Linked DNA regions of Homo sapiens: regions 1, 2, 3, 4, 6 and 7 are each linked to region 5. Evidence: fine-mapped expression QTL. A gene starts in region 5. Each other region holds a variant in brackets. All regions are shown on one strand. Distances are between the middles of the regions. Region 1 overlaps CHST11 (carbohydrate sulfotransferase 11). Region 2 overlaps CHST11 (carbohydrate sulfotransferase 11). Region 3 has its middle 170 kb from the start of MIR3922. Region 4 overlaps CHST11 (carbohydrate sulfotransferase 11). Region 5 holds the start of CHST11 (carbohydrate sulfotransferase 11). Region 6 overlaps CHST11 (carbohydrate sulfotransferase 11). Region 7 overlaps CHST11 (carbohydrate sulfotransferase 11).

What was found. PIP is the estimated chance that this variant, and not a neighbour inherited with it, causes the effect.
Region 1: its variant is fine-mapped to the expression of CHST11 in whole blood (TOPMed, PIP 0.96).
Region 2: its variant is fine-mapped to the expression of CHST11 in lung (TOPMed, PIP above 0.99).
Region 3: its variant is fine-mapped to the expression of CHST11 in lymphoblastoid cells (GTEx, PIP 0.90).
Region 4: its variant is fine-mapped to the expression of CHST11 in sigmoid colon (GTEx, PIP above 0.99).
Region 6: its variant is fine-mapped to the expression of CHST11 in whole blood (TOPMed, PIP above 0.99).
Region 7: its variant is fine-mapped to the expression of CHST11 in pancreas (GTEx, PIP above 0.99).

The regions. Positions count from the first base shown.
Region 1 is chr12:104,758,318-104,762,394 of GRCh38, forward strand. CHST11 (carbohydrate sulfotransferase 11) reads left to right here. Exons shown (of 3, transcript NM_018413.6): 3 at 1-3,697. Among named protein-coding and RNA genes, the nearest start is that of MIR3922, 170 kb to the left of the region's middle. The variant T/C (reference allele first, on the strand shown) is at 2,053.
Region 2 is chr12:104,479,935-104,484,011 of GRCh38, forward strand. All of the region lies in intron 1 of CHST11 (carbohydrate sulfotransferase 11), which reads left to right. Among named protein-coding and RNA genes, the nearest start is that of CHST11, 25 kb to the left of the region's middle. RefSeq lists an enhancer at 2,998-3,498. The variant C/T (reference allele first, on the strand shown) is at 2,281.
Region 3 is chr12:104,764,525-104,768,597 of GRCh38, forward strand. No RefSeq gene overlaps it. Among named protein-coding and RNA genes, the nearest start is that of MIR3922, 170 kb to the left of the region's middle. The variant A/G (reference allele first, on the strand shown) is at 2,020.
Region 4 is chr12:104,662,849-104,666,925 of GRCh38, forward strand. The region is part of intron 2 of CHST11 (carbohydrate sulfotransferase 11); the gene reads left to right. Among named protein-coding and RNA genes, the nearest start is that of MIR3922, 73 kb to the left of the region's middle. The variant G/A (reference allele first, on the strand shown) is at 1,757.
Region 5 is chr12:104,455,011-104,459,010 of GRCh38, forward strand. It overlaps CHST11 (carbohydrate sulfotransferase 11), which reads left to right and starts at 1,938. Exons shown (of 3, transcript NM_018413.6): 1 at 1,938-2,519. The coding sequence starts at 2,402. RefSeq lists enhancers at 1,607-1,656, 1,677-1,756, 2,677-2,726 and silencers at 1,827-1,956, 2,037-2,206, 2,247-2,526, 3,117-3,256, 3,417-3,476.
Region 6 is chr12:104,685,534-104,689,610 of GRCh38, forward strand. All of the region lies in intron 2 of CHST11 (carbohydrate sulfotransferase 11), which reads left to right. Among named protein-coding and RNA genes, the nearest start is that of MIR3922, 96 kb to the left of the region's middle. RefSeq lists a silencer at 2,410-2,605. The variant C/A (reference allele first, on the strand shown) is at 2,385.
Region 7 is chr12:104,490,905-104,494,981 of GRCh38, forward strand. The region is part of intron 1 of CHST11 (carbohydrate sulfotransferase 11); the gene reads left to right. Among named protein-coding and RNA genes, the nearest start is that of CHST11, 36 kb to the left of the region's middle. RefSeq lists a silencer at 1,104-1,307 and enhancers at 2,392-2,561, 3,184-3,373. The variant G/A (reference allele first, on the strand shown) is at 1,702.

The DNA.
Region 1 (4,077 bases), 300 kb after region 5:
CTATTGCACTTAGAGTCATCTTTGCAAGGGACTCATTCCAAACCAATTCCAATCGACCTGAAAGTCCCTTGCACTAAAGAAATGTGATTTTTTTTTAACCCAAGGAGAAAGTTGGTTGTAACAATTTTTCACCAGAATTAGCAATCTGATAGAATAGGCTTTTTTAACAGGAATTTTAAACTGGCGGTGCCAGTTGCAGTGAAGGTGAAGTGGCTATTGCTTTATATTCGACAAATATTTATTGAGCATCTACTATATACTAGGCCCTGAAGATAGAGCGTTGAACAAACCCAATAGTCTTGGCCCTCAAAAAGCTTTATGTGACATAGAGCATCCAGCTCGACAATTAGCAAACCCCTGATATTATTCATGGACTTGACATGAGGTTTGGACTATTCATGAGCAACAGCAGAAGGTCCATGACCCCTACAAATTTACATTTTTCTATGGCCCATATTTGAAAACCTCACATTCGGAGCAGGCCACTTTATATTCGTGAGTGATCCCAAGCTCACTGACCAACAGAAAAGATGCTAAAAAAATGTGTCCTATCATGTGCCTGCTCCAACTGATGGGTAATGTCTGCCTTTAAGCCCCAGAATGGATTCTCCAGGCACAGTGTGGAAGAGTGCTGTGGTTGATTAGCAATGTCTGCCTTGGGTGAGGAAAGGGGAACACTCCTCAAGTGCCTCCTACTGTCATCTCCATTCAGCCTAGCACCACATCCCCATGTAGAAGTGTTGTCTTCTACTGCTTGCCACGTACAAGTGTGAAATGCCAAGGTGAGACTCGTACACTTGGGGATTTGCAATGGTTTTTACCCCTCATGAAGGTCAGAGGTGGACTATTTGTACACATACACACATGCACACCCTCTCACGTCCTCCAGAGGCTGAAAGACTATCAGCATCTTGGTAACTGCCATGCATGAGCAGCAAGGACAGCCTTCCATAATCCATGCCCCATTTCCTCTGGAAGCCTGGAAACTTTTCATTTCCTGTTCCTTGCTAATTAACATCTAAACATGCTTCTCATTTCCAGCCATTGCTGATGCTTCTCAGTTGAAGTTTGAGCCACATCCCTCTTACAGCTAGTGAATGAGTTGGTAGCAGCTACTGTATATAATAATAATAATAGTTTTAATAATAGGGGAGGGTGGGATGGGGTGTGGGTAAGTTTTGCCTTTTGTTTTGTTTTTGATGCCGTATATAGTGAAGGGGTGAGGATATTCTAAACAAACAAAAATTGAATAATTTATTCACAGAAACTATTAAGATTGTATTGTAAAGCTCACAGCAAGCTCAGTGGGCAGCAGCTGCAACATCTCACCGGGGAAATTATTTTATTTAACGTGAGTGAGATGTGGGCCGGAGAAGGTAGCTGAAGCTATTTATAAAACGTTGTGTACCTTCTTCCGAGCTCTCTCCCCTTTGTGAAGGGCGCAGCAACTATACCCTTGATGGATGGAGATTTACGCAATGTGTTTTACTGGGTAGAGTGACAGACCTTGGCTGTCCCTGGAATTGAGAATCTGGACCTTATTTCCAGGCAGAGAACACTGTCCTCAGAAATGGGACTTCTGATAATGAAACAGGTTGTCCAACATTTTCTAATACGCATTCTACAGAACACAGGTTCCAGGAGGCATCAGGTTGGTGTGATGCAGACTAAGGGTTTTGTGGTCAAATATCCTTAAGAAACAAAGTTAAGTCAGTTTCCTTTCTGCAAGGACTTTTCAGCCTTCAATGTGTGCTGTGCATGGTGAATCCCCAAAAATAATCCTTGAGTCTGTAGCATTTCCTGAACTTACATGACCAGGATACTCTATTTTGCAGATCACCCCACAGAGCTAGGGTTCCACCGAGTATACTTTGCTTAGGTTGACTTAGCATATCTGAGGTCTTCAAGGATAAAAACTGCCACCCCAACACCCTTCCATTAAAAAAAAAATACAAAATAGCACCACAGTCTCCATCTGGTTTATAGCAACAGAGGTACTTTATTTAATGAAGCAATGGTTCTAATCCTGGATACTGCCACGGACTACAATTC[T/C]ATCCCTCCCAGAGGGAGTGGAGGAAGTCTTGGGTGGTGTGGACAGAAGGAAGAGAGGAGAGGGTGAGTGGGGTATAGGGCCCAGGGTGGCTCCCTACTCCTCAGGCTCAAAAGGATGCTCAGTGGGAACAGATGATCTCTTGATGAGTGCTTCTTCAGTTTCATAGTTTGGAATCGTTCACTGTGTGCTTTTTGGGGGGTTTTCAATGGAAATTCACGTTGCTTTGCATTTCTGTGTCCGTCTTTGGTCAGTTGTGCAAGCCTGCTCACTGTCATGTGAAGATGGCCTTTCATCTGGCTTCTCTCTCTTAAGTGAGAAAGATTGTCCTTCAGGGGACATGACATCAATAGGTTTCTGGAATGAGGGACTCTTTCTCCCCGTGTTTTGCTTTGTGTTCACATTTTCTTTTCTAATGGCATTGAAACTTTAAAAAAAATGGATTCAACTGTTTTTGCAGAATGTAGAAAGTATTCTGTGTCCTTGGTTAAAGAAATCCACTTGTGAAGTGTGCCTGGAAAATGAAAGTTTGTGTTTTTTAAAGAGGAATATTTGAAACTGCTTTCTATGCATGCTTAGCTGGAGAAAAGTACAGGCAGGCGTCCCATCTCCCAGCCACTTCTCAAAGGTGCTGCTGTGTTTTAAAGACCAGGTACAGCCAGGGCAGTATTTGCAAGGACATTCCTGCTTACTTTATCCCTTTGGTTGGAAAGCTCTAGATGATTCCCGCAGCTCCTCCAGACCCCGCCTCCCTGCCCTCCCCAGCTGGTCTGGGAAGAGGTGGTCTGCTGACCTGTGGTATCTCAGAGGGGACGTTCCTCCTCCTCCCTGTGCACCAGGTGGGCTGCACCCTCCTGCCTATTCAGGATGTGGATGCCACAGGAGAGCAGCAGGCAGTGGAAACTTCAGTTGCACTGGTTCTCCTGGTGGCAAAGGCATGAAGCACAGGGGTCGATTAATCCAGGCTACTAGAAAGCTCCAGAGCAAAGTGTGCGGGTCCCACAAATGCTTGGCTGGTGGGGTCTGGATCAGTGCTGAGATAGAGTTGGCAGAAGAAGCAGAGGCACTCTGCTTGCTTTCCTAGCCAGTCCTCCCCTACACACACACACACACACACACACACACACACACACAATCTCAGCTGCGCCATTCTGTGCAATCCCAGTGACCAAATCCCTTCCTTGCCCACCTCTATGTCAGCAGGACTGACCACATCACTCCCCCGAGTTCCCACCACCAGCATTTCCTCCAACCTTTTTCCATCACAACCAGTTAGAACCCTACAGGCAACAAGGCCTTCTAGAATCCGCTTAACCCTTGGCTGATAACAGGCAAATTTCAGTCTGCTACACTTTGTTAGGTCCAGAAGGAGCTGCCCATACTACTTTCTTATGAGCATGCTCAGTATGGCATATGGACATGTAATGTCACATCTTTGTGGAGTGTGATTTTCTTTTTTCACATATTTGTATGCAGTAGAGAGCCTGTTGTAGAAAACGCTCCCTGTATCTTGCTGTACTGTTAAAGAAAGCTGAATTCCACATTGCCAACAAAAGCGTGAAAATGTTCATGAACCTTCCTCCAGGAAAAGCCATTCAAGCCTGATTATTTTTCTAAGTAACTTCAATTAAATTGAAGAAAAAAGAAGCTGCTTTCTGTGTATGGTTTGCTCATGGCTCATTAACAAAAGACTGTAGGGGTGGGGTGGGCCGTGGACCTTAGCATGCGGGGGGCCCTGCTCATGTGTATCAAAGGATGGAGATGCAGGCTTCGTTGGAAGACTCAGCCCTGGTAAAAACCGCCATAGATCCAAATTCTTTCTGTTCATCGGGTGAATGGAAGCTTTTCTTCTTTCCATTTTTTCTATAAAGTCTTTGTAGACTAATGCATTAGAAGGTGCACTGTGATCACACAGTTCCACCACTCGTGTGAAAAGGCATGAAGGCTGTCAGTAAATGGCTTTGGTGGCAGAGCCAGTATTCAAGCCCAGGTTGATGTGCCTTCAGAACTCCATGTTTTTGGCACTG
Region 2 (4,077 bases), 25 kb after region 5:
CTTTTGCTTAAATCTCACTTAGCTCCAGCCATTTATGTCTGTGGGGGAGGCTGGGAAAGGTAGTCTTCATTCCGTGTGGTCATGTGCTAAACTTGTGTTTTCTTTATTCTAAAGGAAGACAGAGAATGGATATTGGGGGTCAACCAGGAGTTCTGCTGCAAAAGGTTCTATACTTTAGTTGGTCAGTGCTCTGAGCCCCTGTTGAATTCAGGCCTATCTTTCATAAACATCTGCTTAGTCAGTGCACTGAGTTGATAGTGTCCCCGCCCCCCCCTCCAAATTCATGTTCTTCCTGGAACCTCAGAATGTGACTTGACTTGGAAATAGGGGCATTGCAAATATAGTTAGTTAAGATGAAGTCAACCAGGTGCAGTGGCTCCCACCTGTAATCCCAGCACTTTGGGAGGCTGAGGTGGGTGGATCACGAGGTCAGGAGTTTGAGACCAGCCTGGCCAAGATGGTGAAACCCCGTCTCTACTAAAAAATACAAAAAATTAGCTGGGCATGGTGGCGGGTGCCTGTAATCCCAGCTACTCAGGAGGCTGAGGCAGGAGAATTGCTTAAACCTGGGAGGCGGAGGTTGCAGTGAGCTGAGATCGTGCCACTGCACCCCAGCCTGGGCTACAGAGCAAGATTCCATCTCAAAAAAAAAAAAAAAAAAAAGATGAAGTCATATTAGAGGACAGTGTGCCCTTAATCCAATATGACTAGCGTCCTTATTATAAGAGGAGAAGAGACACAGAAACACACATAAGACCGTGTGATAATGGAGGCAGAGACTGGATTGATGCTGCCATGAGCCAAGGAATGCCAGGAGCCACCAGAAGCTGGAAGAAACAAGAAAGGATCCTTCTCTAGAGGCCTCAGAGAGGGCATGGATGGGCCTGCCAACATCTTGATTTTGGACTTGTGGTCTCCAGAACCATGAAGGAATACATTTCTATTGTATTAAGCCACCAAGTTTGTGGCACTTTGTTATAGCAGTCCTGGGAAAATACTGCAGTCTGAAGGAACACATTTCTTGCCTTGACCCAGTAGGGATTCTTTCCAGTTGGAGTCAGGGGATGTGGCTTCTTAGCTTCACCCCTGTGCCGGGATGTGACTCAGCAGAGGTCACTTAACCTCTCTGTGCCGTACTTTCCAGCTATGAAATGGGAAGAGAGCTGCCTTTCTGCTCTGCTGTAACACTGCAAAGGTACAGCCTTTCATGACTTCTCATTGCACCCAGAAGAGAAACCCAAATCCTTAGCCTGACTTCAAGGTCCCGCCTCACTGAGGCCTGCCTGGTCCCACTTCCTTGTTCCCCTGCCCAGCTGGACTTGCGCCACTCTGCCTTCTTTCAGTGCCTTATGAGCACCACACTCTTGCCACGTCACGAATTTTGCACTTGCCGTTCCCTGTGCTTGGCGTGCTTTTCCTTCAGGTCCCGTTTAATGTTGCTTCCTCGTATTGGCCTTCCCAGTTGGGTGCGCTGGAATAAGTTATCACTTAAAAAAAGTAATCTACTGTCATACTTTACAATTTTTAGAATTTGGCCCAGCTTTTTAAGCCACTGAAAGAAATGGTTTCAAAAACCAAACCTGGGTGCAGTCACCTGAGCCCACTGTTCCAGCTGGTGGCTTCCTTCTGTAGGGAGCGGTCATGGATTCTCTCACGCGTCGATGGGGGGCAACGATATCAGATATGGCAAAGATTGGCTAAGAAAGGGAAGGCATTTTTGGAGAGGGCTTTGGGGTTTCTGATACCTAAATGTCTCATCCAAGTGAACAGAGTATTTACTCGTCTATGACTTGAAAAAAGAATATCTTTTTGATGTTATTGTAAATAGGACTGTTTCCTTCCTTCTTTCCTTCCTTCCTTCCTTCCTTCCTCTCTCCCTCCCTCCGTCCCTCTTTTCCTTCCTTTCTCTTGCATTTTTTTTTTTTGGAGTTTTGTTCTTGTTGCCCAGGCTGGAGTGCAATGGTATGATCTTGGCTCACTGCAGCCTCCACCTCCCATGTTCAAGCAATTCTCCTGCCTCAGCCTCCCGAGTAGCTGGGATTACAGGAACCCGCCACAATGCCTGGCTAATTTTATTGTATATATATATATTTTTTAGTAGAGACAGGGTTTCACCATGTTGGCCAGGCTGGTTTCAAACTCCTGACCTCAAGCGATCCACCCACCTCAGCCTCCCCAGGATTGTTTTCTTGATTTTATTTTTGGATAGATTGTTGCTGATATAAAGAATGTATGGCTCTTTTTTTTTTTCCTATTCCTCACTACCTTCTGCCTTCCTTT[C/T]GCCTTCCCCCATCCCTTCTCTTTGCTGAAGACGGTGTGTCATCTGGGGTAACCCTGGGTATTTACGAGCCAGTGGAGGCTGCTCTGCCACCTGGGGCTGCTGGGCCCCAGAGCCACATCAAACAGGGAGCCCCCCCCCGCAAAAATGAAAGGAGGCCATGTCAAATGGGCAGCTGGTGTTTACTTCTTTTAAGTTTAGGCACATCCTTTACATCCACATGGCTTTATTTTTTAGGCAAGTGGGCTCACCACTTTCCTAGACCATGTGGCCACTGCCTCCCTTCCCTTTCCCCACCCTCAGTGTCATTTTGGCTTTTCCCACAGAGGAAAGGCTCACAGAACTCCAACGTGGTTCTGCTTGCTTAGATCGATGAGACAAGATTTTGGTCCTTTGAGCAAGGTAGGAGTTGTTGTAATAAGAGCTGACAATTATGGAGGACCTAGTGTGTGCCCGGAGCTTCACACACATTGCCTCAAATTCTCACAACGGCCTCATAAGGTACATGTTACCTGGACAAAGACAGCAGCTCAGAGAACTCATTCCACTTACCCAAGGTTGCAGATTTCAACTCGGTCCCAACTCACTCCAGAGTCTGTGCATCCCCCCACTTAAGACTTTAATGTCTTAAAAATGTCCCCACTTCTTCTGTCTTTTAGTGGCTTCACGTCTGAAGTCTCTGCTTACTTTTTGGAACAGATGGTGGTTCTCATAGACTTGGCCCGGAGTCAGCATGGGAGAAAGTCATCCTGTCTGAAACAGTGCTGATTCGGGTCACCACAGATTCAAGGTTTCTAACCTTGGCTCTACTTAAGAACAACTTGGACATCCTTTCATGTAGTTCATTGATACCCACATGCCTCCTGGTGCAATATCTCCAAAACTGGACTCCTGCATCTTCACATGCTCACCCTTCACACCCCATCCATTCTCCACACCCTTCACATCCCAGTTCCTGAAGGCAGGTCCCTTGGTTACAGTCTCTCCCCATGCATTTGGTTGTTTTTTGTTGAGATGGAGTCTTGCTCTGTCGCCCAGACTGGAGTGCAGTGACGTGATCTCAGCTCACTGCAACCTCTGCTTCCTGGGTTCAAGAGATTCTTCTGCCTCAGCCTCTCGAGTAGCTGGGATTACAGGTGCCAGCCACCATGCCCGGCTAATTTTTGTATTTTTAGTAGAGACAGGATTTTGCCATGTTGGCCAAGCTGGTCTTGAACTCCTGACCTCAGGTGATCGGCCTGCCTCGGCCTCTCAAAGTGCTGGGATTACAGGCGTGAGCCACCGTGCCCGGCCTCCCCATGCACTTTGACTTTTTTTCATTGCACTCCATTTGTCCATGCAGCAATCCCTCAGGATGTGATTCATTCAGCCTGCCAATTTTGGATAATAAGAGAAGAGAGTTCAGATACAAACTCCCCAATGTTACCTGCATCTCTTTGGTTCCTGCTTTTGGAGAGTAAGGGGTACCTGAGTTTGTTTTATGTCTCTTCTTCAGTATTCTGCTCCACAAGCTCCACGTGTACTTATTCCTCAGTACGCCCCCTTAGTGAGTTTGTTTATTGGGTGAGTGAAAGGAACAGATGAGTAGATGAATGACCCAGGTGAGGCCTGGGGTCGGGGAGGACTGTGGCTCTTCTTACCTGCTGTTGAAGCTGGCCTGGTGGAGGAGGCTGGAGGCAAAGGTGGGGACGTAGTCTCTGTAGCTTCTGCAAGTAGAGGGTCTGCTGCTGGGGTCAGGGAGGATCTGAACCTGGGCCTGCTTGACTCTACAGTCTGTTTGTTTCTACTACTGTCTGCGA
Region 3 (4,073 bases), 310 kb after region 5:
AAAGGAACATTCTAGCAAGGCTGATATGAGAAAAACAACCACCTTTTCCCTATTTCACAATCTTCACCAGCACCCGCCTCTTCCCCAAATTGTAAGAACCCACAGGTGGAGAAAACAGCCAGAGGTTGTGAGTGGAGGCAGCCTGCTGGTTCCAAATGCGTTGCTGGCTGAGAACCATTCCCAAACAAACTCCCGTAGTCACTTCCTCTTTGAAATAGGGAAAACAATAATATCTGGATTGTGCCACGACTGAAAACCCTTTCCTAGCTGCAGTTCATCCACCAAGGAGCTGTCTGCAACCTACAGGTAATTACTTCCTATGCAGGGAGGGGACTTACATTTCCTCATCTGCGGAACAAAAGAATTGAGCTATATCTGTGGTTTTCAATGCGGTTTTTAAAAATGAGCCTCTTAAAAATTTTTGCATTCTGAACACTCATATGTAAAACAGATGAGGCAGAGATGCTGTGATTGAATGGTTTGAGGCCCAGCTCTGCCTTTTTCCCATAAAGTCCCTGTAAACCATCACGGGCCATAGGGTTCTAAGGAAAACAGTTTGAGAAGCAGTAAGTTACGTGACCTCTGAGCCTTTCCTGTTTGACTAATGATCTACCTGAATCCTCCTCTGTGGCTTCTGCTGCTTTATGCCTAAGAGATTGACCAGTTAGATGGTACCACGCAGGTAAAAACTGCTTTGAGAAGGGAGTTAAGGGGATGGCGTTAGACAGAGATTAAGATGCAACAATAGAAATTATTTAAAAAAAAAAAACGTAAAAGCTGATGCAGCAAAGAAATAGCTCATAGCTAGATTCAAGATGGGAACCGAAATTTACACTCCTCTTTCCAAATGCTCTACCATGGAAACACAGGCTCCACCTTTGTACAAAACCCTATTAATTTGAAATACAAGAGACTGGAATGAAAAACAGTCTCTGTATTAATCTGCTTTTTATTTTTCCATGGTTTTGTTTTGTTTTTCTTTTTTGTTTCGTTTTGTTTTTTTGAGATGGAGTCTCACTCTATCACCCAGGCTGGAGTGCAGTGGCGCAATCTTGGCTCACTGCAAGCTCCACCTCTCAGGTTCCCGCCATTCTCCTGCCTCAGCCTCCCGAGTAGCTGGGACTACAGGTGCCTGCCACCATGCCTGGCTAATTTTTCTTTTTTTTTTTTTTAGTAGAGACGGGGTTTCACCATGTTAGCCAGGATAGTCTCGATCTCCTGACCTCGTGATCCTCCCGCCTTGGCCTCCCAAAGTGCTGGCATTATAGGCATGAGCCACCACACCCGGCTCCAAGTTTGTTTTTAAAAATAATAGAGCATCTCATTATGGGAGAAGAGTAAGGGCTTTGGATTTCACGTTGGTTTGGACAAGCCAGCAGCAGCTAGAGAAGATTATTTTGTGGCTAGGACCAGCCTTGGGCTTTATCTGATAGATCAAGCCAGAAACAACTTTGTGCCCGGAACCAAACTGGCAAAAGGATAGAGAAAAAAAATGCCTAAAGAAGAGATGAAGGAAGAAGGAACTCTGACTATAGAAATTATACCTTTATGCTGAGCTTCTTTGCACAGTGAACACAAACTCAACTGTGGGTGCCTTGGAAATGTTTGCTTTTAATGTGCTCTTTTCCAAATTCTATCTTTTCATAGGGAAAGCTGACCATAAAGGTAGCTAACTTTTATTAACTATTAGTTTATTATATGCCACACAGTGTGTTACATGCTTTCAATTTAATCCTCACAAACAACAAACAAGGTAGATACTGGGACCCTTTTTACAGATTGATATGGTTTGGCTGTGTCCCCACCCAAATATCATCTTGAATTGTAGCTCCCATAATTCCCACATGTTGTGGGAGGGACCTGGTGGGAGATCACTGAATCACGGGGGCAGTTTCCCACATACCGTTCTCATGTTAGTGAATAAGTCTCACGAGATCTGATGGTTTTTAGGAAGTTTCCCCTTTCACATGGCTCTCATTCTCTCTTGCCTGCCACCATGTAAGATGTCCCTTTGCCCAT[A/G]ATTGTGAGGCCTCCCCAGCCATGTAGAACTGGGTCCATCAAACCTCTTTCCTTTATAAATTACCCAGTCTTGGGTATGTCTTTATTAGCAGCATGAGAATGGACTAATATACACATAAAGATGCAGAAAATTAGAATAAATAACTTGCCTCAAGTTACCCAGAATTCAGATCCAGGTCTGGTTGACTCTCCAGCCCACTAAAATTGGGCGTTATTGGTGGACCAAGAGTGGAGGAGGCCAGAAGTCTAAACCTGGAAGCCAATGGTGCTACAAAGAGACATGGATAGAGATGAAAACTTTAGCCCAGTTGGCAAAAGCTTGGAAAACCTACTGGACTGATGAACATCAAATTTGGACAAACTGTTTAGAAAGCTTGGACTTCCAATAAAAGCCAATGAATGGCAAAGTGAAATTCAAATCAGGGTCTCAGAGGGAGCTGTGAGACTGCTGAATGGAAAGAACAAGCCATAAGTATTCTGATGCTCTAACAGAACAAGCCAGCCTAAGGTTCCAACATAGCCCCAAATCAAGTTCCAAGGGCAGCCATTCAGGGTAAAGGTTGTGTTCAAGCAGCTGTACACACAGCAACACTGCCATGCAATGCACTTGGGCAAGCAGCAGTGGGACTGGAGTCATTTGGCCCAAATGAAGGACATTTCCAAGCAGAACAGAAAGGCAGACAAAAATAGGGTAAGAGAAAGAGACTCCATGGCAGGTGGGAGTGTCTTAGGGCACCTTTGGATGTCTCTTCTACAGAGTTCCCTCTGCGTGGTAGCACCCTGCACACAGCCCTAGGCCTTACTCTGTAAGCTGAGAGCTCTGAGCTTCCCCAACTTCCCCTCCTCCATCTCAGCCCCAGGGACCTGCAGCTGTCAAGAGATACATTCATTCCTTCATCTGTGCAAACATATATTAAGCATCTGCCTATGTCAGCCCCTGTGCAAGATGCCAAGAATATGCGAATTCTTAAGATTCATAAGTGGACAACATAGAAATGTTAACGGGTAGTTATGGGATAGTTGACACATGCATGAAGACAAAACACCAAATTCCCCTTGGGAAAGAAGTGATGCAAGTCAGTAGCTAGAGAGATGGAGAAAAGTTGAGGGTTTGGAACAGTGGCTCCCAACCAGGAATGATTTTGCCTTCCTATGGATAGATCCCCACAACAAAAACTTGCTCAGTTCACAATGTCAGTAATGCTGAGACTGGAAAGCCCTACATTGGAGAAATATTAATTTGGGATAGAACCTATGTCTTTTAGTAACTGAATGGAAATGTAGGTGAGGAAGAGGGAAATAAGAAGGGAAGGAGGATTGCCACGAATTGAGTTTGAGCAACCATAGCTGGATAGTGGGGCCATTATTGGAGATCAGTTAATTAGGAGCAGAAACAGGTTTTGGGGAAGGCTCTCAGTTAACTATGAGACATGCTGAATTAAGGTTCAGGTAAAACATCCAGGAGAAGTTGGAGTGGTTCTAGAGCCTTACTACTCAAAGTGTGATTTGTAGACCAGCAACATGGAAATTACCTGGGAGCTTGCTAGAAACCCAGTGTTTCAGGCCCCACACCAGCCTTCCTGCATTTTAGCAATCTCCCCAGGTGATTCACATGCTTCACATTTGAGAAGCCCCTGTCTAAGCACAAGAGAGAGCCTGAGGAGAAGCTGTGGCTTTGGGAGATGGGGTCATGTTTCATTACTGTTTACTCTTCCAGCAACCCTGAGATGTGTATGATCAGGTCCACTGTGTCTGGTTGTGCAGGCTGTGCACTGCACAAAGGTAGGCCCAAGATGGGGTTGACATTTGTCATTTACTCTGAAGGACTGGATGCCTTTTTCTTACCCCACTTGCCAAGTTATGGGCCCAAAAGCTGTACCCACCCAGAAAATGAATTGTCAAATTTGCACAAAAGCTCTGTGACTTAGCAGTGGCCCAAATATAATGATTTCACATCCCTTTATCTGCAGTTCTGAAATCCACAAAACTCTGAAAACGAAATGTTTTTTCATAGATTTGCAGCAAGCTCACTTGGCAGAGAAACCTGACCTTAG
Region 4 (4,077 bases), 210 kb after region 5:
ATGTTTACAGGTCCCCAGATGCTGAGATTTACTGACCTCCGTGAAGGAATTGATAAATGATTTAGTTGAAATAGCAAAACTGGAGGCATTGTGTGAATTAGAAATTGTGCCACGGAGCCCACTCAGGTGCCACTAATTTATTTAATGTGATTTGGTTTGTACAGCTGTTCCTCACCACAGACAAAGGAAAAACAAACACCAACTGTTCCCCTAGAAAAATGGGGAGTGCCCCGAGGGATTGGGCCAAAGACTAGGGAGCACCCGGGAGGATCCAGCAGGCTGGCCTGTGTTGGGTCAGTGCAACAAGGCTTCCTTCCAGAGGCCTGGGCGAGCCCTGTCTAACCTACTCCATCCTCACCTCCGTGCGACTTCCATCTCGTGACGTTCTACTGAATCTGTGATTTCGCTAAGGTTGATTTCAGTGGGTTTGTTTTGTGAATACTTTTTCTTCTCTGGCATCATCAGAGATTTCTTGCAATTTTTAAACTTTTTTTTGTAGGTATGAGACAAATACTTGTTTAGTATAGAAAGTATAGAAAATAAATGCAAGTCAAATGAATAAGGTAAAAATCACCAGCAAATCCACCACCCAGAGATAATCATTGCTAACAATTTTGATAAATATCTTTCCAGACTTTTTCTCTGATATTCATGTTTGTATTTTTTAAAAAATGAATACTCCTAGCTTATATTGTTTGGTAACCTGTTTTTATTCATGTGTCATTTTTGAGCAGTTTTTCTCCATAACATTCAACTGCTTTGCTTAGACTGGTGTTCAAAGGGGGCTCATACAGACCAACCCTAATTTAAAAAAATCTTACTAGGAATGGTTTGCCCAAGTGCATTGTGCCGTTGTAGAGAGCTGTGCATTTCTGTTTGGGTCGCTTTAATGTCATTTCAAGGGCACTGACATAATAAGAATGCCCTTCCCCCTTTCTTTAGCCCATTTAAGGTACTTTATTAACAAGTTCCCAAGGGTGACTTTGTTATTCTTGTTCCCTTTCTTCCACCCATCCATCTGTTCATCCATCCATCCATCCATCCATGTATGGAGCAATTAGGCTGTGCCAGGCATTGTGTCTGCTGATAAAAACACAGATACATAATTTCAGCAGCCCCTGTCCACTAGGGTACCAGTCTCCATCCAGAACTTCCATCTGCCCTGGACATGAGATAGGGACCTCCATCTTATTTCTTCACTATGGAGTTGATTACTTCCAGCGAGCTATCTAGCAGATAATTCCTCCCTTTACAGTGGAGGCATCTCAAGGGTAGGAACTGTATATCACCTCTCTTCTATAAACCGCGAAATGCTGACTGTGCCTGTAGCCTAATACTCAGGGAGACCACGAGGTGAACTGAATTTTAGAGCTGAGGGTGAAGCGGCGGGAACATTTTTAAAAAGCTGTTTCTCAACACAACTCTTATGTATGTCATCGATCAAAGAAAAATGAGGATGCTAACAAAAATGTTCTTTGATTACTTAAGACTTTATTTTTCTAAGTGTGGTCTTCTTAGGTCTTTGAGAGACAGCAAGGCCTTTTTGTTAAGGTTTAGACACATTTTCTCTTGGTGTGTTCTAGAGAAGCACGGCTTTATGTAAAAATGTAAGATTTATTTTTGCCAGTAAAATATAACACACAGCCCAGCCCAGCAACAGCATACATCCTCACTGGATGCCAGCAACAGTCACTGTGAAATGTTACAAGTGCAAACAGCCCCAGTCCCTCCTCAGACAGAGCATGCTGCCCATGCC[G/A]GCAACAGTCACTGTAAAATGTTACAAGTGCAGACAGCCCCAGTCCCCTCCTCGGACAGAGCATGCTGCCCTTTTTCCAGGGAAGTGGGGTTATTTCTTTTTATGGTGCCATTTTGACTTCCTAAGACTACCATAGATTTATAAGGAAATAATTCCTCCAATGGGCCTAAGTGACATCCTAAAGTTTTACACGAGCCGGTTATGAAATTGCAAGAACTGTTTCATGGAAACATTTCCATGTCACCAATGTAGGCCCATTTATTAAATTTATGGAACTTGCTGTATGTGCTTTTTTAAAGATACCAAAATATATTTAATAACCTCAACCCGGAGGCAAACCTCGAGGGTTAATTACAGTAATGAATGTGGCCAACACCCGGGCTATTCAGGAAGAGAGAGTGGCTCTGTGCTCTGCCTGAGTGCCTCACCTTGTGCTAGCAGACTCAGGGGGTAACTCCATAAACTTTCATCATCCAACCTCTTCCCACTTTCACCTCTCTAGGTAATCTGGTCACTCTTGGATGAATAGCAGATGTATGAGAATAACCTTGAGATTTGGGATCGAAAGGCCTGACTCTGAGATCTGATTCTACCCCATTTATTATGTACTGTGTGGCCTTGGTTATGTCACTGTCCTACTCTGGGCTTATTTTTACATCTATAAAAGGCCAGCATACTAATAGCACTCATCTCAGGATTTGAGGGGAAACAGAACTTTGGGAGGAGCAAGGAGCAGCATGGAAGAAAAGAAGAGAGTCTAGTCTTAAAAACGTTTACAAATGTATCATAGTCCAGAAAGTCTTGTTTCAAACTGTGCCATCTGCATGGAGGTAGTTGAATGTAACAGTGACAAGTGCAAATCCTGGGGTCACGCTGCCTAGGTGTGAATCACAGCTGAATCTCTTTTTCCTCATCTGTAAACTTGGGATCATAATGACTACTCACAGGGCGGTTCTGAGTATTAACTTAGTTCATCAACCTAAAGTGCTTTGCACAGCATCGGGTACATCATGTTCAATAAATGTAAGTAGTTGTATTTCTAATTTTTAACTTTTTATGCCTATTGAAAACTTGAACACTCTGCATTTAAATTTGAAACAACATACTTGGAATTTTCTCTGGATGCCAAGCAAATGTCCATGATTTGTGGGGTGGGGGGTGGGGGTCTTTCTTTTTTCTTTCCCTTTCTCTTTCTCTCTCTCTGTCTCTTTTTTTTTTTTTTTTTTTTTTTTTTGAGACGGAATCTTGCTCTGTCACCAGGCTGGACCGCAGTGGCGCGATCTCGGCTCACTGCAACCTCTGCCTTCCAGGTTGAAGTGATTCTCCTGCCTCAGCCTCCCGAGTAGCTGGGATTACAGGTGCCCGTCACCATGCCCAGCTAATGTTTTGTATTTTAATAGAGATGGGGTTTCACCATGTTGGCCAGGATGGTCTTGATCTCCCGACCTCATGATTCGCCCGCCTCGGCCTCCCAAAGTGCTGGGATTACAGGTGTGAGCCACCGCACCCGGCCTCTTTCTCTTTTAATCTTATTTAGACTATCATGTATAGAATTAAGATTGAATACTTTATTTAAATTGCTACTAATTGCAAGTTCTGTTTGGTAGGGGTTTAGAATATGCTTAGCATTTGAAATGATCACGGGTATAGGTTTTCTGTCCCTGAAAAACACCTGAACTGTTTCCCTCAAGCTTTCCAAAACAATTCAACTTTGGATGCAAGCGAGAATGGAGAAATTTAATAAAGATTTTTATTTGTTTTCCAAAATGCAATACAGAAGATTGGGGTTATTGTGAAACGTGGGCAGGCTTTTGTAGTCCCCTTTACCTTGAATTCTGCTTTGCCAAAGCAAGATTTTATTAAGATAGGACTATCCAATTTCCTTCCGTTGTTCTTGGGACTCTGTGTTTTTGCAACTCGTTTGCCTCTGTCTGCGTGTTGAATTCTAGAGGGTGCGATGATGGAAGAATAAAATGGGATGGAATAATACCAGTGTCCTGCTGCATTGGTATTCAAATTCAGTATCCAAGGCTCCACATGCCTGAAATACAGATTTACTCTGAAATACAGTGGATGGCCAACAAATGTTTCCTGATTGAAAAAAGATGGAAGGAAAGGGAAGGGAGAGAAGGAGAAGCTAGGGAAGTCCTGTGTGGAACAGTAGAGCTGGGATCAGGTACCTCATCAGAGAGGCGGGGCAAGGTCTGATAACCCCTTTTTTCACCGTTCTACAGTACCGTGTGCGGTGGGGTCTGGAGTGAGCCAGAACAGATAAGTCGTTGCCCCTTGCCATCCCCCAAAACTATGCCCAGGGTAGCTGG
Region 5 (4,000 bases):
GCCCAAAAGAGGTTTGGACCTAGTGCTCACAGCGCAGAGGAGGAAAGTTGCAATTTCAGGTGAGAAAACAGCAAAGACTTCTTGGGAGAGGTGGTAGCTTATGTGTCACAGCCTTAATCCTCACTGTGTTTGGGCAGGTTCCTGATTGTGGGAATGCAAGAATGGATGTTGGGCATGATTCACCATCCTCCCCCACCATGTGGGCCAACTCCATGATCTCTGTGACTCACAGGGAATTGGACTTCTGATCTCTTCCTTGACCCTGTGACTTCCCAAACTGCCTTGTGCATGTCCAGGCTTTGGGGCAGGTAACTGAAGTCTTTGGCCTATGAGGTGAGAGGTCACTTGGGTGACCTGGGAGTAAATCCCTTCCCCTCCCTGGCTCTGTAAAGCCAAGTGTTAAATGAGAGACTTATATTCCAGGCAAAGGCTTTGTGCAAATGCCCATCTAAGCCATGCCCTCTGCAAGGAATCCCCTTTCTTAGTGATGATGGTGGGGAGGTGGGGAGGGTGCAGTGCAACTCCCATTCCTGATCTCCTATCACCAGAGCAGAAGAATCACTGGAGAACGACTCTGTCTGAAGCTTGTTCAGCCTGGCTTCCTTGAGCAAGCAACTTATTCACAGGTAAGTCCAAATTAATACAGCGCACACCGGCTACATAAATATTGTGCTTTGATTGTCTTCTGTAATCAAAGGCAAGGCTGCTGAGTTTGTTACTTTCCCCACCATGCAACTGCTGGAGGAGAACTCTGGGGGAAGGGAACTGAGGTTGCCCAGGTGGTTTTTGTTGCATGTGTCTAACTGCAAGTTGTGTCTCTGTCTATCGAGGGGAGGATAAGGCCCATTACATTCAGATTCAATAAGAATTTATCAAATGCCTATTTTGTGAGAGGCATTGAAAGACACAGTATCTTATTTCATTTTTAATTGAATTAGTAATGACTTGATAAGGCACAAAGGTTAGTCTAACTAACATTTTTTTTTTCCCTGACATACGAGTGATCCCTACACTATTGGCTGTGTCCACTTTATTGATTGTGAAACAGCCTAAATGCATGGAATTGGAAACTGGAAGTCATTCTACACAATACAAGAAAGCAGCACCATCTTTCCATGTACCTGCCAGTGCTATGGCTGGCTTGGCTTTTCCAGCAGTTTTCTGGACTTGGTTGAGGTGGCTTCCTAGGGGCATTTTCTCACCCCCTCCCAGCTAAGACTGCTGTTAATTTTGAATAATTTGGAGGATGCTCTACCCTTTGGGGTAGCAGAGTTTTGCAACCCACAGATCCCTTTTGCCTTGAGGAATGGTGGTGATGGTGGGTGTCAGAGATTCTGTCTGTATAAGTCCCCGGGAAAGCTCAGCTGTCGCCTGACCCGAGGGTCGTGCAGTTTCCTTAACCCTGACTTTAAGTCAGCCCTCTTTAACCCCGACTCCCAAGCTGGGCTGTCCTTTGAAAGAAAAACGAAACCGCCCAGTTCTGAGCGTCGGAAAATGGGCACTCGCTCCCTGGGGGTTTGGGGCAACTTCCCCGCTACGTCGCCCAGGGATTTTAAATAATTGCCAGCCACCAGAAACCCCCTAACCCTTAATTCTTCCCTCCGAGACCCAGCCCGCTGCTTGCCACTTCCCTCTCCAAACGCTGGCGGGGGTGGGTGGCAGCACCGAGGCGATTTTCTTCGTCTTTTTTTCCTCCGGGTTTTGTCATGGAAACGCTGACACAACCTCCAGACGGCGGCCGAGCCCGGCCGGGGACTGAGGGCTTTTGGGACCCTGCGGGAGCGCGGCGCGCACACCGCACTCCCCGGGCAACAGCTGGACGCGACCATATCCCGGGTAGGGGCGGGGGGAGCGCGACGCTCCGCCCCGGCGCTAGGGTCCCTCCCTCCTCCCGGCTCTCCGCAGGCGCCCTCCCCTCGCCGGGGGCCGCGAGTTGCATTTGGTAAAACCCAGCCCCGGAATATATAGATCGTTGGAGCGCAATGAAGTAGCCTTTGGAGAGAAGGGAGAGGGCCCGTCGGACAGCCACAGCGGCCAGCGCAGCGGCAGCGGCGGCGGCACCACCATCACCGCTCGCACCCCAGCCGCCCGGCCCGCGACCAGGCAGCGGCGGCCGCCGGCGGGATCGGAGGAGGCGGCGGAGCGGCGAGGAGGAGGAGCAGGAGCGCGCAGCCAGCGGGTCCACGCATCTCAGCACTTCCAGACCAACTCCGGCACCTTCCACACCCCTGCCCGGGCTGGGGGCTCCGAGAGCGGCCGCGAAGCGACTCCGATCCTCCCTCTGAGCCTTGCTCAGCTCTGCCCCGCGCCTCCCGGGCTCCGGTCCGCGCGGCGGGGTCCCTGCTCCTGCGCCCCGGGCGCGCTTCCCGGACACCCCGGTCCCCGCAGCCAGGACAAAGCCATGAAGCCAGCGCTGCTGGAAGTGATGAGGATGAACAGAATCTGCCGGATGGTGCTGGCCACTTGCTTGGGATCCTTTATCCTGGTCATCTTCTATTTCCAAAGTATGTTGCACCCAGGTAGGGGGCGCGTTAGCGTGGTTTTGTTGGATATTTTCTTCTCTCTCGCGCTCTAGCTCGCTCCGCCTGATTTCTGCCTCTTCCAACCCTACCTCTCCGCCTTCGGCCTCTTCGGGGCTCCTGGCTGCCCAGAGCTCCTGGCTGCCCAGATCTACCCGGGTCACCGCGTCGGGATGGGGAGGAGAAGGGAAGGTGTGCTTCGCCCTCTTCTTCCTACCGGCTCCGGGCTGGAGGATGGGACCAGGAGGGGCGGTAGTTTTTTTTTTTTTTTTTTTCTTCTTCTTTTTTTCTTTGTGTCCCTTGTCTGTCTGTCTGCGAGGTAGCAGGGAAACGGAGAGGTGTGGGAAGCAACCGGGGGTGAGGGGCTGGTTTGAGGAGAACGAAACTCCCTCCCTGCTGCTGCCGAGGTCGGAGGATGAAAGAGTTACCCGGAGCCGGCTGCTCTGCGCCCGGGCGAGCCGCCTCTTCCTGGTTGCCGGGCCGGGGGCGAAGGGTGTACGCCCCGGCGAGGTTGCGAGTCCCTGCAGCAGGCTGGGAGCCCGGGACTGGGCTCCCACGTGTCCCGGGCTCCGCGCAGAGCTGAGCAGGTGTGGAGAGTGGTCGGGTGCCCAGCGTTGCCCCTCCACCACGCGCCGGCCGTTTGCCCCCGGGGTCCGGCTCCGCAGTGACCTTGCGGCTGGTGCCCCGGGGCCTGCTCCAGCCCCCAGCCCTGAGCTGGAAACTCCGAGCTCCTGGGTCACGCCTTGACCACTGCAGTTTTGGAGGAAACTTTGGCCAGGTCCTGGGCTGACCGTCCGTTTGCATCCCCCACTTCTGGGATCCGAGCAACGGGAATCCCCCGGGCGGCGTGGGAATGAACCCCATTCCTCCGGTCCCTTGTGGCTCAGGCAAAGTTCCACGTCCGAAATCTGGACTGGGGGAGGGACGAGGCTCGTCGCTTCCTAGGGGTGCGAGGGAAAGTTTGGGTTCTGGAGAGGGAGGGGCGCCCTCGAGCGCGGCGGCCGGGGGTGAGCAGCTCGGCTGCGAAGCCCAACAGGTAGAACGTTCCGAGAAGCCTTCCGGGTAACGCGGGTCTCCCCGCCAAGCCGTGGCTCCCCTGCTCCCTTTTACCCTCCCTTAGCAGCCCCCTGCCGGGCCACGTTGGCTCAGAAATCCATTTTCTACGCCTCCGAGTTGCCTTTCTCAGCGTAGTCACAGCAATAATTTGCTTTTCTAATTGCAAGGAGGAGGGAGGTGGAAACGCATTTCCTTCCAGGGAAGTGGGGTTGGTGTTTTTCATTTTTGCCTCCCGCCTTCTCCTTTCACTGTGTATCTAACACTTTAAACAGACGCAGTCCCGAATTCATCAAGCCTGCGTTTGGGTCGATGGCAGAGGAATAAAGCTGTTCTTTCCATCAAACAGGCAGGGCTGCAGGCTGCAGATTCCTTGACAGCGCAGGGACAGACGGCCCCTTTGCCCCACTCGGTCTGGAGCAGTTGTT
Region 6 (4,077 bases), 230 kb after region 5:
CATTAAATGTGTGACCTCAGGCAAGTCTCTCAGCCTAGTTGAGCTCCATTTCCATCACCTAGATGAACACTTGCCTGTAGGACTACTGTGAGGATTATATGTTTAATGTATGTGGGGTGCTTGGCACATAATAGCACTTAATAAATGCTATTAGGGACTATTCTTGTTATGGTTGAGCCGGTGAAGAATTTTGTGTGAGAGATTGTGTCTGGACTTTCATTTGGAGCAAGTTAGGTCAAAATAACAGCTCCTGGCACTGCTGGTGCTGAACATGTGTTCTCTGCCTATTCCCTTGCTGAGACATGAATTATTAATATTTTATGCCATTTATTCCTGTGCTATTTGGGGACTTCTCTGGCAGACTCTGGTGTTTTCTGATGGTTCCAGAAATTCGTGCAAAACATTTCTATAGGCTGGGCACAGTGGCTTACACCAATAATCACAACACTTTAGGAGTTCAAAGTGGGAGGACCACTTGAGGCCAGGAGTTTGAGACCAGCCTAGGCAGCCTTAGTGAGACCCTCATCTCTACGAAAACATTTTTAAAAAATTAGCTGGGCATGGTGGTGCATACCCGTAGTCCTAGCTACTCAGAAGCCTGAGGCAGGAGAATCGCTGGAGCCCGAGTTTGGAGGCTATAGTGAACTATGGTCCCACCACTGCACTTCAACGTGATCACAAAGGGAGAACTCACCTCTTAAAAAAAAAAAAAAAAAGACAACATAGTGATTCATAGGGTTGACCTGACTTTTCCTAGGAGTCTAATGGACAGCTGCTTAGCCGCTGATCCAGCGCTTGGCTGACTGATTCCAGGTGCCAGAATGTGGGACAGCTGTGCTCTGAGAGAGAGTCCTCTGCTCACTCAGGTGCAGAAGACAGTAAAGACTAGAAAGTTGGTTGATGATTGCTGGAATAAAGGATGAGAAACTTGAATCTGGTACTAGGCCCACACAAATTCAGTTACTATGTGTCACTTCCTGTTGGCTATTTATTTAAAATTGTAGGACTTCTGGACAAGATTTGCAACTGTGGCTGCTACTGTATCAAAAGTTACAAAGTAACTGCTAAGTAGAGCCTTTAGTTTGTTGTTGTTCTGGTTTATTTTATTTATTTGTTTTGTTTGTTTGGTTGGAGACGGAGTTTCATTCTTGTTGCCCAGGCTGGAGTGCAGTGGCGCGATCTCAGCTCACCGTAACCTCCGCCTCCCAGGCTCAAGCAATTCTCCTGCCTCAGCCTCCCAAGTAGCTGGGACTACAGGCACCCGCCACCACGCCTGGCTAATTTTTTTGTATTTAGCAGAAGCAGGGTTTCACCACGTTGGTCAGGCTGGTCTCAAACTCCTGACCTCAGGTGATCCACCCACCTCAGCCTCCCAAAGTGCTGGGATTACAGGTGTGAGCCACCACACCTGGCCATTCTTGTTTCTTTTTGTTTTGTTTTAAAATTGTATATTTTGGATCAGTTTGCATCTCTCTCTCTCTACAGGGATTGGTTTGAGCATTGTGCAGGTCCCAACTGCCAAGGCTCATGGTCCTTCTGTATAGATGCCACAAACCTACAGTTAACACAGCAACCTTTCTGGCCTTGCCAAGTGCTAAGAGTGGTTGCAATAGGGCCTAGGATTCAGAAGTTGCACTGGGCAGTCAGCAGGGCCCATGCCCCTCACCAGCTCTTCTGGAACTATTTTGTTTTTTTAGCATCCAAGTGCTTTACACCTTGTTCTCATTTGGGTGGTCAAGCCAAGGGTTGTTGACTGAATTCGTAAAAGCACCTTACACATCAGAGGCACTAAGTAAATGTGTATAAATCCTGGACAATACAGCAATAGTGATGGTTAATAACAATGGTTCTCATTTATTGAGCACTTACTATGTACCACACACCATGTGAAGCGCTTTACCTGAGTTATCTCATCTCACCGTCCAACCACTGCATTAAGTAGATGCTGCAGTAGCCCTTATTTTACAGATGAAGAAAGAGGCCAAAGAGCTTAAGAATTTGCCCATAGTCATAGCTGGGAAGCCAGAGGCAAGGATTTGATTCCAGGGTAGTCTTTAGACAAAGACCTGGGCAGTGAGGAGGTACTTCCCAAAGACCTGGGCAGTGAGGAGGTTCTGGGAAGTGAGGAGGTACTACGAGTTGAAATGAGAAGATAGATGTCAAGGCCAGTTTAGCTCAAGATTCTTTTTTAAAGAAATGGCCTTTCCTGCCTAGAATGATCCTGTTTCAAACAGCGGCCCCCGCCCCCCCCAAAATTTTTTTTTCCCTTTGCAGCTTTGGATTTTAGTAACACCAACAATATTTCCTGGAGAAATACTCCAGATGCAGTTTTCTGGTACAAGGGAAGCTGTTTTCATACCGTACCAGCATTTCACAGTTTAATG[C/A]CGTTGGGTGAGGGTGGCGGTTGTTATTCTGTGTTTCCTGCTCTCAGCCAGTGTGTGGTTCACACTTGAATTTGGCAACAGTGTGGTTGTGTTTTCTGTGCATCACTTCCCTGCATGGCATCAGATGGGCCTTCTGATTCTTAGAAAACGCAAAGATGTGGTCATTTGTGTGGCTGGAAATTGGCATCCCTGTGTGCGCGTTAAGAACGCCAGGCTGTTGCAGCAGAGGAAAACAATAGGGACCATTTTAAAATGAGATACAAGTGTTCAGGTGACTGTTGCTGTGGGATTTTAACTCTGGATGAATAGCTTGCTGTTAGGGTGGGTACTGACAGATTCCTGGAGCTCTTGTTCTGATCCTTGATCACAAATGCTTTCCGTCTAGATTGACAAGTTGAACCTTCACAGCAACCCTGTCTGGTGGGCGCCACTCCACCCATTTTATAGATGGGAAGACCGAGGCAAGGAGAAGTAACTCACCACTAGTCCCTGAGCCAGTAGGTGGTAAAATGAGATGTGGCCCCAGATAGCAAGGCTCAAGAGCCCCTGAGCCTACTGAACTATAGGGCTAGATTGACGTATTGGGAAGTCTTCTGAATAAATTGCTTCTTCCTCTCACTTGTTTTGCTAGAAACATAAATTAATGTTAAAACATCAACCTGAAACGTGTATTTAAAAACCTGTAAGATATTCTCAAGATAATCTTCAGAAATATGTGAAAAATAAAATGTTAAGGATCCTTAAGGATGTTCACACAGGTATTATTTCTAATAACAAAAAATTGGAACTAGACAGTAACCAAAATAGGGGTGTGGTTAAGTATATTCTGTCACAGCCATATAAGGAAAATGTATAGAGCCCTTAAGATGATGTTGTAGCATAAAGTTTATGGACATGGGAAGATGTCAGTTACAAGCCATTGCTACTGGGCATGGTGATGAGCCTGCAGGCCCAGCTCCTCAGGAGGTTGAGGCAGGAGGATGGCTTGAGCCCAGGAGTTCGAGACCAGCCTGGGCAAGAAGGGGCAAGAAGGAGCAAGAGGAGGAGGTGAAGGAGACAAGCTATTGTTAAATAAAAATAGTAGACTTTTTAATATAAGTATTATATGATACAATTCTTTCTATATACACACATTCGTGAAAGAACATTTCTAGGACAAATGTCAAAATATTAACAGTATTTCCTTTAGGTGTTATGGTCTATTGTGATGTTCTTCATTCTTTTGTGACTTTCTCATTTTCCTTCCAAGCTGCCTGCAATGAGTAAGGATTAGGAAAAGAAATTTTTAAGACCAAAATAAACCTTGGCCTCAGCCAGAATCCCTTCCTACCCAACCTGAAACCTCAGGGCCATAAATCGCCTGCTGCCTCCTCAGGTGGACATGCTTGCTTCCAATCGAAATACAGTGGAAGCTTTTTCCATGGCCAAGGATAGGCCCAATGGCTGTTCTATCCCATAGCAGGCAGACGCCTGAGACCCTCGTTTGTGTGTTATGCTCTGTTGAAGATGGGGCAGAACATACTTCCCAGCAGCTGTGAGGCTGAGACGAGGTGAGCAAGTCCTTTTGAATTCTCTTTCATGCATTCATTCAGCAACCTTGTATCATGCACTTACTATAATTACGTGATTAATCATTGCAACTACATTTATGTGATTCTTCTCCTTGCCAGGCACTGTGGTAGATGCTGCCTTA
Region 7 (4,077 bases), 36 kb after region 5:
ACAGGGCGATCTTTGGCATAGCCTGTCATTTTGCTCACATTTCACTTCTCTCTCTCCAACTTCAGAGCCCCTGCTGTGGAACAGGTGCTGTGCTGGGTGGCAGGGGAGGTCTCTGGCTTTTTTTTTTTTGATCTCCGTCTTAACATCTAGCCTACTGGAGGAAGTGTATTTAATCATCCACTTATCTGTTAACAATTATCTCTGAGGGCCCGTCACATTCAGAGAAGATTCTAGGTTCTCTACAAGTATCCTCTCACTGTGTACATACTAAATCAACATCCTGCTGGATTTCCCCCAGACATCTCCCTTCATCACCATTGGAGAGTATCCTCTAATTGCCAGCCCTATTCACCATACTCATCTCATTTGATCTGGAGTTTTCTGAGAGTGACCGGGGGTGGGATGGACAGGATAATTTAGCAAGAGTGTATAAGTAAAATCTATATAATAAAAGTTATCTCCCTGTGCCCCCCATGATCTATTCTTTATGTAGCAGTCTGAATGAGATTTTCAGAAACAAGAACCACTTTACCTTAGTCTCTTCTTCTTCTTCTTCTTCTTTTCTTTTCTTTTTTTTTAGTATTATGGGGATCTGTTTCTGTTGCCCAGGGTGGAGTGCAGTGGTATGATCTTGGCTCACAGCAGCCTTGAACTCCCAGGCTCAAGTGGTCCTCCTGCCTCTGCTTCCCTAGTAGCTAGGACTACAGGTTTGTGCCACCACACCTGGCTAATTGAAAAAAGAAATTTTTTTTCAATAGAGACAGTGTCTTGCTATGTTCCCAGGCTAGTCTCAAACTCCTGGCCTCAAGTGATCCTCCTGTCTCATCCTCCCAAAGTGTTGGAATTACAGGTGTGAGCTACTATACTCGGCCAGTACCCTTCTCAAAACACTTCAGCACTTCCCATTGCACTTGGGTTGAAATTCCCACCACTCACTGGGGCCCACAAGACTCTTCAAGACTGAATCCTTGCTCAACATTGTGACCTGCCCCCTACCACCTGCAGCCTCACTTGCTGTGCTCCAGCCATGTGGATCTTCCTCCTGTCTCTAAAACTGCCTCAGGTCATTTGCACCTGCTGTTCTTCCCAAAGGCTGTGTGATTTCCATCAGTCAGTCTTAGCTCGTATACCTCCTTGGAGACACCTCTTCTGACCAACCAGTCCAAAGAATCTCCTCTTACCATGTCACTCTGTTTTATTTATTTATTTAGAGATGGAGTCTCGCTCTGTCACCCAGGCTGGAGTGCAGTGGCGCGATCTCTGCTCACTGCAAGCTCCACCTCCTGGGTTCATGCCGTTCTCCTGCCTCAGCCTCCTGAGTAACTGGGACTATGGGCACCCACCACTACACCCAGCTAATTTTTTGTATTTTTAGTAGAGATGGGGTTTCACTGTGTTAGCCAGGATGGTCTTGATCTCCTGACCTTGTGATCTGCCTGCCTCCACCTCCCAAAGTGTTTTATTTATTTTAAAGGCATGTATCACTCTCTGAAAATTAGCTTCTTTCTTCTTTTTCCTTGTTATCATCCATTTCCCCGAACCAGAATAGAAGTTCCTGAGGCCAGAACTTCTGTCTCTCTGCCCCTCACTATGTGTCTCTGGCACATACCCCAGTGCCTGCCTGCTCTAAAGTAAAATCTTAGTAAATATTACTGTTGACTAAATAAATGAATAAATCCCTTTTAATGCCCTTTGGAAGTT[G/A]CAAGTAAAGAATAGGATCCCTTTTTAAGATTACACTTTTGGCTATTGATCTGTGTGTCTGGAACAAGATACAGTTTGAAGATACTACCATGGGACATGACATCAGTTGAGCTGATTAAGGTTTTAGTAATAAGAATCCAGGATGTGTCCGGGTGCGGTGGCTCACGCCTGTAATCCTAGCATTTTGGGAGACCGAGGCGGGCAGATCACGAGGTCAGCAGTTTGAGACCAGCCTGACCAACATGGTGAAACCCCGTCTCTACTAAAAAATACAAAAATTAGCCGGGTATGGTGGTGTCCACCTGTAATCCTAGCTACTCAGGAGGCTGAGGCAGGAGAATTTCTTGAACCCGGGAGGCGGAGGTTGCAGTGAGCCGAGATCACACCAGTGCACTCCAGCCTGGGCAACAGAGCAAGACCCAGTCTCAGGAAAAAAAAAAAATCCAGGACGTAACTGAGGAAAATGAAGTGGAAATGAAATGCACACTTACCTATAGCTGTGTTTCCTACTGTCAGTGAGGTCAGATGTTTTTGACCAAAAAAAGATCGGAAAGTGAAATAAAACTAATGGAAATGGTGCACGATGGCTCAGTGGTTTGCAAGCAATGCAGATGGCCTCAGCCATTCACATTCAGGCAGGAGCCGCTGATCCTAGTGTTTACCTTGGAGCTGGTATCCAGTAATGTGGCAAGATGTTTATTGCTTTCTCATCAGATGATGGATGTGGAAGAGAATGTTTTTGCCCTGGAACCAGGTAGGCCTTGGGCTACTTAATTTGCTCTTTAATAGACATAGGTGTTCTTGAAGTACACCTGTCATTCCCTTAACAGAGCACCTATGAGGTGCCAGGTGCTGAGGGTTCGTTGGTGAATGAAGTACATTTTGTGGCTTCTAATCCAGTGGCTTTGGACATGTCCTGGTGAGAGGGGTGGAAATAGTGTATGCGAATGTGTGTCAAATGCCTCAGAAGTGGGAAATGGAGGGAGAGTTTGAAGGCCTGAAGGCGTTCCATCAAAGCTTCCTTCCTTGCCGTCTCTACCCTTCCCTCAACTCTGGCTCAGGCAAATGCTCAAAGTGACTCACCCTGGTAGGCACGGAAAGACAAGAGAGACTTGGATGTAGAAAGACACATTTACAGTTTGTGGAGGGCCGTCCCTTCGGACACATTTCATCAGTGGGTGTGATGCTGCCTGTGGTATCACATGTGCAGCAGCAGGGTGTTCGGTTTTGTTTTTTGAGACTGGGTCTTGCTCTGTCACCCAGGCTGAAGTGCAGTGGCACCATCTTGGCTCACTGCAGCCTCCATCTCTTGGGCTCAAGTGATCTTCCCACCCCAGCCTCCCAAGTAGCTGGGACTAAACACACACACCACCATGCCTGGGTAATCTTTTGAGATCTCACTGTATTGTCCAGGCTGGTCTTGAATTTCCGGGCTCAAGCAAGCCTTCTGCCTTGGCCTCCCAAAGTGTTGGGATTATAGTGTGAGCCACCGTGCCTGGCCTAACAAGATGTCTGTATGTGAAGCCACATTCCTGGCCCATCCACAGTCACGAGGACTTGGGACTACAGGCTGGGTGACAAAATTGAGCTGATTTCCCCAAATCTCCAAGGAGATCCCCTCTGAAGAGATGCCGTGCCGATGAGAGACAGAGCCTGCACCACGAAGCAAAGGCAGGAGCTTGTGAGCTTGTGAGCTGACCCCTCTGGCCTTGGCCTCTTAGTGTCTATAGCCCGTCACTGCCTTAAAGCCACCACATCACATGTCACTGTTCTTCAACACTGCTCTTATTTGAATGTCTCAGTGATAACATCTCAGAAATGAAAAACAGGGTCTCCACTTCTGAGGATGTGACAAGTGAGTTGGAGGCAGTTTCCCAGGGGAAGGATTTTTGTCTCAAAGCATTAAAATAGAATCCGTTCTAAGTCAGAATATTCCTTTTAAAGTTAACTTCACAAAACTTCTCTGATCTTGATCCTCTTGCTAGCAGCTGACTGCCGAGGATGGGTTCCAGCGCTTCTCAGAACAATGTCGTAGGCGTATTAGCTCTGTAAGTCACCACGAATTCAGAATAATAACTGTGGGGTGGGGTGCGGGCTCACTGATTGACTCGGAGGCATCTAGAGTTCATTTTGTAAAACACTTAAACAATTCAGGGTGTTTTGTTTTGTGGGTAGATTTTTAAAAATAATTTTAAAAATGTAAAATTGTGGTTAAAAAAGCACAATGTAAACTTTACCATTTTAATCCTTTTTAAGAGTACGGGTCAGCAGTGGTAAGTATATTCATACTGTTGTGCAACAGATCTCCAGAACTTTTTTGTTTTGCGAAACTGACATGCTGTACCCACTAAGCAAACAACAACTCCCCATTTTCTC